2 linked regions of the Homo sapiens genome follow. The protein of the gene in region 2 interacts with the protein of the main gene of each other region in a pairwise test. Each region holds a gene or a part of one and is shown on either strand. Other genes may lie near its edges.

Region 1 (7,452 bases), on a different chromosome or scaffold from region 2:
TACAGAATTCCTAGGTACCATATGCAAGCATGCAAGATCCAGAGGAAGAAGACATAGTCTTTTTTTGTAGGTTTCTTTTAAAAGTGAGGAACATCTTCCTAAAAGGCACCAAGCCAGGTTTCCTTCTGGTCTCAGTGGTCAGGTCTGTGAGACCTGTCCATGCCTAAAGCAATCCCTGGCAAGGGGAATGGGACCACTACGACTGACTCTGCACGTCAGGCCTTACCCCTGTGAGCTGAGATTGGACTTCTTTTCCCGAGGGGATTCTTGAATTAAAGTCCTTGTTTAGTTAACAAGAAAGAAGTGAGTGATGAATGTTAAGTATGCAATAAGGTCTAATATTTGGGGCAAGAAAGATGAATATTTGCTTGATCCTATTCTATGCCAAGGACTTTGCCTGGATTCTTTCACTTAATCCTTACAGTAAACCAAAGAAAATAAAATGAAGACATTGTCATCCCCATTTTGCTGCTGATGAACCTGAGGCATAGAGAAGTTAATTAAATTGTTAAAGGTCACATAAGAGTCAGTGATAGCCAAGGCAGGCAGATCACCTGAGGTCAGGAGTTTGAGACCAGCCTGGCCAACATGGTGAAACCCTGTCTCTACTAAAAATACAAAAATTGGCCGGGTGAGGCGGTGCGTGCCTGTAATCCTAGCTACTCGGGAGGCTGAGGCGGGAGGATCGCTTGAACCCGGGAGGCAGAGGTTGCAGTGAGCTGAGATCATAGCACTGCACTCCAGCCTGGGTGACAGAGTGAGACTGCGTCTCAAAAAAACAAAACAAAACTTGAACTTGGTTGCATACATTTAATTTTATTTATTCCACCCCCTTCCCTGAATTTGAAATGTTAAAAGTGTCTAGTTGCTTAACATGACATTTTGAATTTTTACAGATACAATTTTCATGAGCTAAATTTTAAATTCACAATATTTTAATTAAAAATGCTACCAGGCTAGGCATGGTGGCTCACACCTGTAATCCCAGCCTTTTTGGAGGCCGAGGTGGGAGGATCACTTGAGCCTAAGAGTTCATCAAGACCAGCCTGGGCAACATAGTGAGATCTTGTCTCTACAAAAAAAATATAAAAATTAGCCAGGCCTGGTGGCATATGCCTGTAGTCCCAGCTACTCGGGAGGCTGAGGTGGGAGGATTGCTTGAGCTTGGGAAGTCGAGGCTGCAGTGAGCCAACATGGCACCACTGCACTCCAGCAACAAAGTGAGGCCCTGTCTCAAAAAAAAAAAAAGCTACCAGAAAAATATGCAAATATCATTATGCTGCTTTTAGGAAACAAAATCACAATTCTTCCTTCCTTTATTTATTTATTTATTTATTTATTTTCTGAGGCAGAGTCTCCCTGTGTCGCCCAGGATAGAGTGCAGTGGCGTGATCTTGGCTCACTGCAACCTCTGCCTCCAGGGCTCAGGTGACTCTCCTGCCTCAGCCTCCCGAATAGCTGGGACAACAGGCATGTGCCATCATGCCCAGCTAATTTTTTTATATATTTTCAGTAGAGATGGGGGTTTCACCATGTTGGTCAGGCTGGTCTTGAACTCCTGACCTCAAGTGATCTGCCGGCCTCAGCCTCCCAAAATGCTGGCATTACAGGCGTGAGCCACCTCACTCGGCCCTTTCCTTTATTTATGTTTTTTTTGTTGCTTAAAAGCAGTGCTTCCATTTCATTATTTGATCATGGCTTTTAAAATTATTTTATTTATTTATTTTTTTAAGAGACAGACTCTTACTCTGTTACCCAGGCTAGAGTGCAGTGGTAAGATCATAGTTCATTACAGCCTCAAACTTCTGGGCTCAAGTGATCCTTCCACCTAGCCTCCTGAGTAGCTGGGACCACTAGCATGTGACACCACATTGGCTAATTTTTTTTTGTTTTTTGTTTTTGTTTTTGTAGAGACAGGGTCTCATTTTGTTGCCCAGGCTGGTCTTGAACTCCTGGCTTCAAGCAATCCTCCCACCTCGGCCTTCCAAAGTGCTGGGATTACAGGCGTAAACCACCATGCCTGGCCTAATCATGCCTTTATAAAAAAATCATTTTTTTTTAGAGAAAAGGTCTCACTATGTTGGTCAGGCTGGATAGGAACTCCTGAGTTCAAGTGATCCTCCACCTCAGCTTCCCCCTGTGCCCCACTCAATCATGCCTTTTTATTATAACTGATTCTGATGGTATGCTGACAGATATACAAATTAATCCAGTCCTTTGGAGCTTAAAAATAATACAATGAAAAAAATCATTTTTATGGTGTGGTGCATCATAAAGTTTATTTATTTATTTATTGAGACGAAGTTTTGCTCTTGTCGCCCAGACTGGAGTGCAATGGCGCCACCTCGGGTCACTGCAACCTAGGCCACTCCGGGTTCAAGCGATTCTCCTGCCTCAGCCTCCCGAGTAGCTGGCGCACGCTACCACGCCCAACTAATTTTTGTAGTTTTAGTAGAGGCGGGGTTTCACCACGTTGGCCAGGCTGGTTTCCAACTCCTGACCTCAAGTGATCCACCCGCCTCTGCCTCCTCAGGCGTGAGCCATCGCGCCCGGCCAATAAAGCATTTTAATGCATTTTTCCTCAAAGTATTCATAAACTTCAACTTGTTCTAGGTAAAATTATTTTCCCCTTTCTACCCACAATAAAATGAGTAATTTAAGCCCTTAACCTACACATTATTCTTACCTTGGAATATTTAATAAGAGCTGCGCTAATATTATATCTGAATAATGAAATAAGAGAAACCAAATAAGAAAAATTTGTCATAAAGCCCTATTCTCCTACATTAGATTATGTGCATGGCACACACACGGATCAGCTTAAGCTGGGTGAAACTATATGGAGTTAGAATTCCTGGCTTCCTATCATTCAGTAGCTGTGTGGCCGAGAAGAAGACTTTAATGTTGTAGGACCTTTAAAATGGGCTGTAACTCAAAGGCCCTCCTTCTGGAGTTGTTGTGAATCACGTGGGGTAATATATACTAGTTTACAAGATGGATGTGTAAGCCCGAAGGTGGAGCAGGTTTGCAAGCCTTCTTTCAGCCTAGGGACAGTAGGATGACTCATGAGTCAATTCTTCTCTCCTTCCCGTCATTTCGGGTCCAACTCTTCCTCCTGTAGTCCACAAAAGAGCACGGCTGACCGATACCAAGCAGAGAACCCAGTAGGGTATGTGACCACGTTCAGATCAACAGAACGCAAAGCAGAACGGTCCGAGTACTGCCTCCTACAGCCACTTTCCTTTCTTTAAGCCTCAGCTGCTGCTCTAGGTGTAAAACCGGCATAAAATAGCACTACGTACCTTGCAGAGTTGCTCGGAGGATTGAAGGAGATAATGTAAGAGAGTTTGGCTAGTTTGGCTATGATGGATGGACATTTTCTCTTTTCTAACGTCTCTCTTCCCCTCCTAATGAAACCTCTTCTGAAGCTCGCTAACTATAGCAGGGCTTGCAGCTTCAAAAAAACCTTTCAGTCAAGATCTTGAAATTAGTATTATTTAAATCAGTGCAGTAACACCAAGGTGTAAAAGACTGTTACCCACTGGTGGCTTTAAGAGGATTAGCTGACTGAAGAGTTTTAGAAAACATGGAAACTTTTTTTGTACGTGGATGGATGGAATTCCCTGATCTCCTTATCCCCACCACTTAAACCATGCCTTGTGGGTGACCGTGGAAGGCTGATTGTGGCGGGGACATTTACAAAGCACATTTAATTGATAAGCACTCGATTGTTCTGTAACTATAGAACTAGTTCACCTTTCAGTTGCACTGAGTGCGCCTAAGATAACGATCTTATTTGGAAGTGAGCCCTCGCTAGAAAGAAGGGGAAAAGGGTAAGACCGAAGCTCAAATGAATGACCAGAAAGGATGTTTTCATTCGAATAAACTCAACCCAGTTTTTGACCTCCCCACCCATCTCTGCCAACTTGAAATCCTCCTGGAGGGGCGAGCTGCTGGGGTTCAGGACTGGGCGTTGCGGCTGCAGGAAGCCGTGGGACCTGGGGGGTCCCTCGGCCGGGCAACCCCCACCCACCCCTACAGGACCCTGGTGCGGGGGCGAGCAGGGAGTGGACGCAGAGAAAGTTCCCCGCTCTGCTCCCGCCCTCTCCGAAACTCGAGCCAGCGAGGCTGGGGGCGGGCGGACGGCTCGCAGAGGAATTTGCAGTTTCCGGGAGGTTGAGGAAGCGACCCGAGCACAGCCCCAGCAGACGCAGCCCTAGCGCCCGGCTTTCCGGGTTCCGCGACGCTGTCGGGAGAAACCCGCGCGCCTGGAAGGGGCGGGCCGGGCTCCCCCCACCTGCGGGCGGGCGGGGAGGGTCGCGGCCGCGCGGGGTGGGGCTCGGCCGGTCGCCCGTCCGGGGCGGGGCCCAGGGAGGCGGGGTCGCGGGCGCACCGGGGCCGAGCCGCGCCTGGAGCCTGGCGGGGAGGCGGCAGGAGGGGCCGGGAGAGCCTGATTGAGCGGCGGCCGCAGCTGCATAAGGACTGCCCGGGGCTGCGCGCCGGGAACCTCGCGGGGCTGGCGGGCGCCGCACCCCCTCCCTGGCCGCCTGCGCCCCGGGGAGGCCGCCCGCGCGCGACGGGACCGGCAGCATGAGCAGCGGCTACAGCAGCCTGGAGGAGGACGCCGAGGACTTCTTCTTCACCGCCAGGACCTCCTTCTTCAGGAGAGCGCCCCAGGGCAAGCCCCGCTCCGGCCAACAAGTGAGTGGCGCGCGGCGGGCGCTGCAGCCCGCGCCCCAGAGTTCCGGGGAACCCGCCAGCCCGCGCCCCCTGCCTCCACGTGTCTCTGCGGGGCGCTCGGGGGATGCTCGCCGGGAAGGAGGAGCGGGCCGAGAAGTGGCTTCTGCCTTTTCGGGTCCCGGGAACGTGCCTGGAGCTTGTGCGTGTAGGCGAGGGAAGGCGGAGGAAGGGCGGGGAGGCTGAGGGCCGGCTTCTGCCTTCCGCGCCAGATGGCCTCTGCAGCTCCGCCTCGGGCTGCCGCCTGCGGGGAGCAGCCCCGGAGCCAGCAGGCGTCCCCGGGCCACTCCCCCAGGTTTCCCCTTCGCGTCCCCGCTGGGTCGACGGTCGGGTTCGCGCGCCTGTCCTTCCTGTTAGTCAGCTTACTCATCTGTGGCCCCCAGAGTGGCTTGGGTCAACGTGTAATAGCTAGGGGTGGCCGGGTGACCTGACCTCCCCTCTTCCTGGCCCGGGCGACCTGGTGGAGTGGGGGTCCAAGGGCACCGTGGGCCTCGCCACCATAGGCTCTCACTAAATCTCCGTTGCGGGACTCAGGGTTGTGCGTTTTCTGTAAAGCTAGGTTTTTTGGTGCCCAGATGTTTTGCAAACAAGCTCCTATGCTAAATACTAGCCAGCGACAGCTAACCTTTTCGCCGGTTTCTTCCTTTTTTGGAGGCAGCATGCCGTGGGAAGCACGAGTTGGGAAAAGATGGGAAGGGAACTTGTGCCAGTTTCGCCAGCTGTAGCCGTGTTTTTTGGGAGGCCTTCCCGAAACGGGGCACGTCGGCTGGACTGAGGAGCCCGGTGCTAGAGCCCGCGGCCTCCTGGCACTAGGAGCCGCACCAGGGGAGCCGGGCCAACCCGGCCACGCTCACATCAGATTACAGAAGATTGTAATGGCACAAATTTGTTGCTTTTAGAAAACAGGCGTTCGCCAAACATTTCTATTAATACCGGACTGAGACCTAGAGACTAGAAGCAAGAAGAATCGTTCAGGGGCCGGATGATAACTTCTTTTGGTGGATGTGGGAGGGTGCAATCTGTCAGGGTGGTCTTGCCAGACCTCTTAAGTTTAGCCACTTTCTGAAGTAAAATTCTTTCTAAAATTCGGAAGTTCTAGTCTTTTCAGGCTCTTAAGTCCCAAACCAGGAGGAGGAGAGGAGACGGTGAAGGGTAAGCTGAAGTCAAGTGCCCTTATTCAGTAACCGCAGTTAATCTCAAGTCCCGGTGCCATAGTTGTCCGTCTTGTATTGTTTCTAAGGCTTAAGGCCCCACTATTTACGAGTCACTTTGAGTGGGATCTCTTACTTTCAGCAGAGTGTGTTCTGAGAGCATGAGATTGCTGTGAAGTTTGGAAGTTGGAAACGCCCTCTCCTCCCCCATGCCCACCCTCCCTGGGTTGTAGAAAAATTGCATTTGCTTATGCTTTTTCCATTTTTGCTTTCTCTTTCTTGGCCTCTCTCTTCCCCTTCTCCGTTTTGCATTTTCTCCTTTCATTTATGTTGCTTTCACCACTTGACATGAAAAGGAACTCATGGTAGTTTGAAGTTTATTCCAGAGGTGTCTGCTAATCTCCTGAAAACTGGCTGGTTCTTGGATTCTCCAGGGGTGAGATGCCACAAGGGCCAAACTATTCAGGTTTGAATTGTATGAGAATCCTTTAGTGCTTTAAAGAGTAAAGACATCAGTTTTTTTCTAGGTTTATATGCATTTAGCGTTTCTTTTTTTTTTTTTTTTTTTGAGATGGAGTCTCACTGTGTTACCCAGGCTGGAGTGCAGTCGTGTGATCTCACTGCAACCTCAGCTTCCCTGGTTCAAGCGATTCCCTTGCCTCAGCTTCCCGAGTAGCTGAGATTACAGGCATGCACCACCACATCTGGCTCATTTTTGTATTTTTAGTAGAGATGGGATTTAACCATGTTGGCCAGGCTGGTCTCGAACTCCTGGCCTCAGGTAATCTGCCCGCCTTGGCCTCCCAAAGTGCAGGGATTACAGATGTGAGCCACCGCCCCCGGCACATTTATTGTTTCTATGTTGTATGCAATCATTTATGTATCATCTAGCATATATATTATACTCAGGGTAGTATTATTTAGCATTTAGAATTAGTCTAACATTAATATGTATTTTGAAATATCGTGTTGGAAATCAGGACAGGAAGACATAGTTCGTGGTTGAAGAGCTTCATATGTGTATTTGAAGCTTTATTGCCTGCATATTTTTCCCTTCTAACATAACACATGTAAGGTGCTGAGTTGTAGAAGTTATTTGCCAGGCAGAGAAAGTGTTCTAAACTACGAATTTTAGTGAGCATTGTGGTTTATTTAAAGAAGTGATATGAATGTTTTAAATTCCTGGTAAGATTGGTGAATTAGGGAAGTAAAACATCATAAATATAAAGCAAAACACTCTTAATGTAGAATGTTCCTTTTATCTAACGTTAGATAAGCCTTTTTCTTCATTTTCATGCTGATGATTATAAGAATAAGATAAGCACTTCTGACATACATCATAGTAGTGAAATTTATCCTTTCTCTAGAGAGATGGAAAGAGAGGTATTGCTAGAAGGATCTATTAGAGATACAGTGATTTTTTTTTTTTTTGGATGCTGTACCACCTGGTGGAAAAGTGAGAAAAATGAGGTTTCTAGATTTCTTGAAAATATCCGGAGAAAACAAGATGTTTGTGGTAAATGCAGAATGGGGAGAAAGGGGTGAGGGAGCGGGTGGACTGGAA
Region 2 (7,083 bases):
CGGCCAGCCTCACAGTAAAGGTCTGAATAAACCACTGGTCCCAGCCAGCCACCTGCAGCCCTCTGTCCGGGCCACCCAGAAGCTTCCATCTTCCCTCAGCCCCTGTTGCCCCGTGACTCCAGCGTTGCCAGGCTAAGTTTAGCTGTGAACTGCATGGGCCGCCCCTCTCTGTGGACAAGGGCAGAGGTGGAGAGGAATTCAGCAGGCTTCCTGGCAAGCAGACAGAAAAAAGCCCGCCAAGTGACCCAGGTTTATTCTCAAAGCCAAACCCACCAGCTGATGTCTCAGACCACAGGTGCGGGAGAGCCTGGTAGAGGTGAGAACTTTGGGCCAAGGCAGAGGTGGACATCCTTGGAATTGGGAGTAGGGGACTCTTTGGGGAGGCATGTGCTGGTATGTGCAAGAACATGCACACATATACACATATCCATGGTTTGTGAGAGGCTCCTCACTACCCGTCCTGTCTCAGAATGTCAGAATGCCCTGTTTCCTTCCCTTTTGTGGACAAGTCAACTCTATACAATATTTGAAGGGATTTATTCTGAACCCATCTGAATGACCAAGGCCTGAGGCACAGTCCCAAGAGATCCTGAAAATATGTGCCCCAGACAGTTGGGTTACAGCTTGATGTTACACATTTTAGGGGGACAGAAGTTACAGGCAGGCCAGGTGCTCACACCTGTAATCCCAGCACTTGTGATCCCAGGCAGATCACTTGAGGTCAGGAGTTCGAGACCAGCCTGGCCAACATGGTGAAAACCTGTCTCTACTAGAAATATAAAAATTAGCCGGGCATGGTGGGGCATGCCTGTAGTCCCAGCTACTCAGGAGGCTGAGGCAGGAGAATTGCTTGAACCTGGGAGGCAGAGGTTGCAGTAAGCTGAGATCCCTCCACTGCACTCTAGCCCAGGCGACAGAGTGAGACTTAGTCTCAAAAAAAAAAAAAAAAAAAATTACAGGCAGACCTCCATCAATGCATGTGTAAGGAATATGTTAGTTTGGTGTGGAAAGATGGGACAACTTGAAGTGAGGGCAAGGAGTGGCTTCCTGGTCATAGGTGGATTCAAAGATTTTCTGACTGGCAATTGGTTGAACGAGTTAAGTTATTATCTAAAGACCTGGAATCAGTAGAAAGGAGTGTCTAGGATAAGGGGTATGGAGACCATGGTTCTTACTATGTAGCTGAAGTCCCAGGAAGCGAGTTTCAGAGACAGGAGATGGTAAGTGTCTGTCAAACCTAAAAAGGTGCCAGACCCTTAGTTCATCTCTCCTGGATCAGGAAGAGGCCTGGAAAGGGAAGGAAATTCTGTACAGAATGTAGATCAGACTCTTAGTTCATCTCTCCTGGATCAGGAGAGACCTGGAAAGGGAAGGAGATTCTGTACAGAATGTAGATTTTCCTGACAATAGGCAGCTTTGCAGGGCCATTTCAAAATATGTCAAAGAAATATATTTTGGGGTAAAATACTTTGATTTCTTTCAGGGCCTGCTATCTCATATGATGCTATATTGGGTTGAAATTCGGTATCTTATTGCTACAGAGTCTGTTTTGTCACTCCTAGGATCTCTGTTTTAACGTTAATGCTGTTCAGTTGTGCCTGAATTCCAGAGGGAGGAGGGTATAATGGGGTTTGTCGGCTCCTCCTTCCCATCATGGCATGAACTGGTTTTTAAGGTTTATTTTGGAATCCTCTTGGCCTGCAGGACATTCTTCTGACCCCTGGGGTCCCCAGGGCAGTGTTTCCTGTGACTGGGTTTGGGAAGGGGAAGTACCAGAGGCTTCAAACTGAACCCCATCTGGTGGGCCCTGAGCGACCACAGCCCTATTATCTGCCTCGGCCTGTCCTATCCCATAGGGTGCTGCAGACAGAGCCAGCCTGTGCAGAGTTTAACAGGGAGCCAAATGACAGCTGGGATCCGATCCGGGGAAGCGGGGAGATGGATTACGTGAGAAAGTGAGTCAGAGGGAACCCCTGACCTGCAGGAGGATCCCAGGCTCTGAAGCCTTCTCCCCTTTGCTGGGGGCCAGGGTGGACTCAGGGGTGTGCCAAGGAGGAGAAATAGCAGTGGAACATCTTGTGCTTTCAGAGCACTTTCGAGCGTGTGTTTACTCCCCATGCCTGGGGCTCAGGCAGGGCTGCTGTGCTCAGCAGGTGAGAAAGCAGAAGCCTGTAGATGCTGAGGAGAGGAGCCTGCCCTGTGCCAGGCACGGTGCTAAGCACCCAAGGTGTATGATCTCACTCACCCGTCCCAACATCCCTGTGAAGGAGGAAGTGTTATTAATTCCTCCTCACAGGGAAAGCGTGGGAGCGCAGAAGCTGTGCGATCCACCCACAGTCACTCAAGGTTAGAACACAGGTCTGCTGGGTCTACAGCCCAGGCCCCCTTTCCTTGCAGTCCTTCCCCAGGCTGGTGCCCTGTTTCCCTGGTGCTTCTGTTGAGTCTTGTCTGTAATCCTACAATTACCAGTGCTACTATGCACTGCCTACATCCTGCCAGAGTTCCTTGTAGGGGCGTCTGCGGCGCACTCCGCCCTGAACCCCAGCAGGCAGGGTCATCTGCGTATTTCCATCCCATCGCAGTTCCTTTCATAAGAAAACTTGCTCAGGAGCAAGCATGTTGCTGAGTGCTTTACATGCATTATCTTGTTCAAGCTTTATAACAGTAGATATGATTATTCTCATTTTACAGATGAAGAAACTGAGGTTCTGGGAAGTGATTTCTCCGAAGTCACCTCCAGTAGGTGCACATACTGGGTTCTGACCCAGTCTTGTCTCCTCTCGAGTCTATCCTCTTTTCCTCTTGCACACAGAGTTGGTCCCTTCAGTTGGTTTGGAGTTCTGAACCTTGCCTGTGCCAGTACAAGGAGGCTCTTACAGCTCCTCCTCCTCTGGCAGGAATGAGGATGTAGCAAGTAGCACCATGAAGTGTGGCGTAGACACAGGGATGGTTCCCAGCCATAGGGCTTGGCCGTGGCCCCACTCACCTGTTCGTGGCATCCTGCACTGAGTTGACAAGGAACCTGGGTAGGTGGTTGTCCGGGCTATTACTGTGACTGGTCAAGGCCCACTGTGTCCAAAGGTGGCTGCCTGTGATCCAGGCAGCTTGAAGGACCCTAAAACCCCCCAAATTATCTCCTAACTGGCTGCTGCCTGATATTCTGCTATGAGTACTCTCCACCTTTATGTTAACTTTCTCACCCATGTTAATCACCCAGCCTCGCAGTTAGTTATGCCTTGGACCCTCCCTGGCAAAACTTTCCGTTGATGTTTCTCTAATGTAGAAACCAGGCTGACCTGTTTCTGCCATTATCCAGCAAGCTGCTCCTTGGCTTGGGGAAGGAAAGCTGGCTCGCTGCCCCCTGCACTTTTTCCTTACCCCACCCACCTTGCAGTGTGACTTCTTCCACTTCATCCTGTCCCCGCTTTCCTCCTCCAGTGGAAACCTGTAAGTGCTTCAGTGCTCACCTCTGAGGCCCACACTGAGAATCCTCAGGGTGGAGGACGGACCTTCTCCACTCCCCAACCCTTGTGGTTCCTGCAGACCTGTCCAGCTGTGTATGGGGTGGAACTGTCTGAGTCACATCTGAGCAGCAAGTTTGTCTAGGCGTGACCAGCAGCCAACTCAGTCCATCTCCATCCTGCCACTTGCCAGGGACAACCTGCAGAGGTATCTTTACCTGGGGACAAATCCCTGTTCCTTGGCACCATTAGGACAAGAATTTCATTGTGCAAATTCCAGGTCGGGCTCAAGCCAAAGGGAATGGGGCTCAGGTTGGCACAGTAGCTCCTATCAGCCAGTGTTAGTGTGCACTAGGGGGTGGTAGAAGGAGCCCTGTGCTCTCAACAATCTCAGGACCTCAACTGATTTGCATTTGGCCATTTGCTTCCTTCATCGAGGTCCCAAGCAAGGAGGGGGGTAGTTCAAGTGTGGAAATAGCAGATTGTTAAGTCCCAGGATTCCTGCTGAGGAGAGGAGAGGGTGTAACTAAGTCTTGCAGCGTAAGACAGTGCCTCTCAGATTTTTATATGGATGGTATTAAAATGTGGATTCCGATTCAGTAAGTGTGGGTGGGGCCGAGATTCTGCATTTCTAACAAGCTCCCAGGAGATACTGCAGCTGCTGGTCCGTGAATCATACTTCGAATTGCAAAGATTGTAGGGATTAGCCTTTCTCCAAAAGTCACTTGAGGCTTAAAAATCCACTTATCCTAGGGGAACAGAGTGCCTCCTTTCACAATTAAGAAGTTAGATTTAAAGTTCACATGCCTGGTAAGAAGAAATTAGTGATTCTTTGCTCTCTGGTCATCATCAAGATTGTCCTGGGGAAAGACAAAAGCCAGGAGAGTGTGTCTGAATATGGGGTAAGGTCTTCCAGGTCAGAAAGAGACGTTTACAGAAGAGGAGGATAAGGGCTCAAATCTACTTCCGAAACAGTTATTGTTCAGTGAATATGTGCTTTGCACTGGTCACTGGGCCATGCAGTTTGCAGGGATCATTGCGTCTCTCAATACCATGACCCTGTGAGATACTATTGCTTTCCCCTTGTGCAGTAAGGAAACCAGGGCTCAGAGAGGTGTGTTAACATGCCCAGGGTCACACAGCTTTTCAGTTGACAGTGCTGGTTTGGAACCTAGCCCTTTCTCCCTTAACCACTAGGCTTCACTGTATTGCAGGAAGATGACATTCACTTGGGAGAGAAGGGGATATGTTATTCAGGACTATTTTGATTTCAAGTGGTGGAAAGGCCACTCAAACTGACTTAAAAAGGGTTTCTTTATTGACTTGTGTGACTAAAGAGCTCAGACAGCAATGCCTTCAAGCAGAGCTGAGTGTGGGGAGGGGGGGTTCTGCTTTCCTCTATGTTGGTGTCTTTCTCAGGCGGGCTCCCTTCCCGAGAGCCCACTGCAGGTATAATCCTGTTCCCTCAGCAACCTAGCAACCAAACTAGCAACAGGATGAGTCTTTCTTCCTATTGGGCCCAACACACCCTACATCTGTCTCTCATTGGCCCGAATTGGATCAAATGCTCATCCCAGAACCAATCGCTCTAGCTGTAGCTGGGCGGCAGAATGTCTGATTGTCTTGGGCCTGGGTTTTGAGCCCACCCCAGGAGCTTGGAGGTGGGTATATCCTCGCCCTGGCCATAAGGACTGGTAGGAGAAAAGGGTTAGGGACAGTGGGGTGCTGCTGCCATCCAGGAATGTCTGGGTAGGACTAAAACAGATGTCCACCCCAGGGTAGGCCTTTGGGGCTCTTCCATGGCTGGACTGAAGCTCCTGAGGCAGCCGCAGGGAGCTCTCGATGGGTTGGGTGGGAGAACTAAGACCTTAACCAGCCCTGAGGGGCTGAGGTTGGTGCGGGGCCCAGGGACGAAGTGGCATTGAGGGAAGCTTGGTGTGACCATCTGTCTCTCTGTTCCCAGGAAAGCTCCAACCATGGCCATGGGGCTCTTCCGCGTGTGTCTGGTGGTGGTGACGGCCATCATCAACCACCCGCTGCTGTTCCCGCGGGAGAACGCCACAGTCCCCGAGAACGAGGAGGAGATCATCCGCAAGATGCAGGCGCACCAGGAGAAGCTGCAGCTGGAGCAGTTGCGCCTGGAGGAGGAGGTGGCTCGGCTGGCGGCCGAAAAGGAGGCACTGGAGCAGGTGGCGGAGGAGGGCAGGCAGCAGAACGAGACACGCGTGGCCTGGGACCTCTGGAGCACCCTCTGCATGATCCTCTTCCTGATGATCGAGGTGTGGCGGCAGGACCACCAGGAGGGGCCCTCACCTGAGTGCCTGGGCGGTGAGGAGGATGAGCTGCCTGGGCTGGGGGGCGCCCCCTTGCAGGGCCTCACCCTGCCCAACAAGGCCACGCTTGGCCACTTTTATGAGCGCTGCATCCGGGGGGCCACGGCCGATGCAGCCCGTACCCGGGAGTTCCTGGAAGGCTTCGTGGATGACTTGCTGGAAGCCCTGAGGAGCCTCTGCAACCGGGACACCGACATGGAGGTGGAGGACTTCATTGGCGTGGACAGCATGTACGAGAACTGGCAGGTGGACAGGCCACTGCTGTGCCACCTTTTCGTGCCCTTCACACCCCCCGAGCCCTACCGCTTCCACCCAGAGCTCTGGTGCTCCGGCCGCTCAGTGCCCCTGGATCGCCAGGGCTACGGCCAGATCAAGGTGGTCCGCGCCGATGGGGACACATTGAGCTGCATCTGCGGCAAGACCAAGCTCGGGGAAGACATGCTGTGTCTCCTGCACGGCAGGAACAGCATGGCGCCTCCCTGCGGCGACATGGAGAACCTGCTGTGTGCCACAGATTCCCTGTACCTGGACACGATGCAGGTCATGAAGTGGTTCCAGACGGCCCTCACCAGAGCCTGGAAGGGCATCGCCCACAAGTACGAGTTCGACCTGGCCTTTGGCCAGCTGGACAGCCCGGGGTCCCTGAAGATCAAGTTCCGTTCAGGGAAGTTCATGCCCTTCAACCTGATTCCTGTGATCCAGTGTGATGACTCGGACCTGTACTTTGTCTCCCACCTTCCCAGGGAGCCCTCTGAGGGCACCCCAGCCTCCAGCACAGACTGGCTCCTGTCCTTTGCTGTCTATGAGCGACACTTCCTCAGGACGACACTAAAGGCACTGCCCGAGGGCGCCTGCCACCTCAGCTGCCTGCAGATAGCATCCTTCCTGCTCTCCAAGCAGAGCCGCCTGACCGGTCCCAGCGGGCTCAGCAGCTACCACCTGAAGACGGCCCTACTGCACCTCCTACTCCTCCGGCAGGCCGCCGACTGGAAGGCGGGGCAGCTGGACGCTCGTCTGCACGAGTTGCTGTGCTTCCTGGAGAAGAGCTTGCTCCAGAAGAAGCTCCACCACTTCTTCATCGGCAACCGCAAGGTGCCTGAGGCCATGGGACTCCCTGAGGCCGTGCTCAGGGCCGAGCCCCTCAACCTCTTCCGGCCCTTCGTCCTGCAGCGAAGCCTTTACCGTAAGACACTGGACTCCTTCTATGAGATGCTCAAGAATGCCCCAGCGCTCATTAGCGAGTATTCCCTACATGTCCCCTCAGACCAGCCTACCCCAAAAAGCTGACG

What was found. Proteins that work in one complex are often made in the same cells at the same time.
Region 1: the proteins of ITPRIP (region 2) and RASSF3 interact in binary tests that used the Homo sapiens proteins (3 or more experiments, as listed by UniProt).

The regions. Positions count from the first base shown.
Region 1 is NC_000012.12:64,606,043-64,613,494, forward strand, and holds the start of RASSF3 (ras association domain-containing protein 3), read left to right. Parts: upstream 1-4,452; 5' UTR 4,453-4,590; coding exon 4,591-4,701; exon of another isoform or gene 4,702-4,804; coding exon of another isoform or gene 4,805-4,879; intron 4,880-7,452.
Region 2 is NC_000010.11:104,314,406-104,321,488, reverse strand, and holds part of ITPRIP (inositol 1,4,5-trisphosphate receptor-interacting protein precursor), read left to right. Parts: intron 1-5,424; coding exon of another isoform or gene 5,425-5,437; coding exon 5,438-7,081; 3' UTR 7,082-7,083. UniProt on the Homo sapiens protein: Enhances Ca(2+)-mediated inhibition of inositol 1,4,5-triphosphate receptor (ITPR) Ca(2+) release.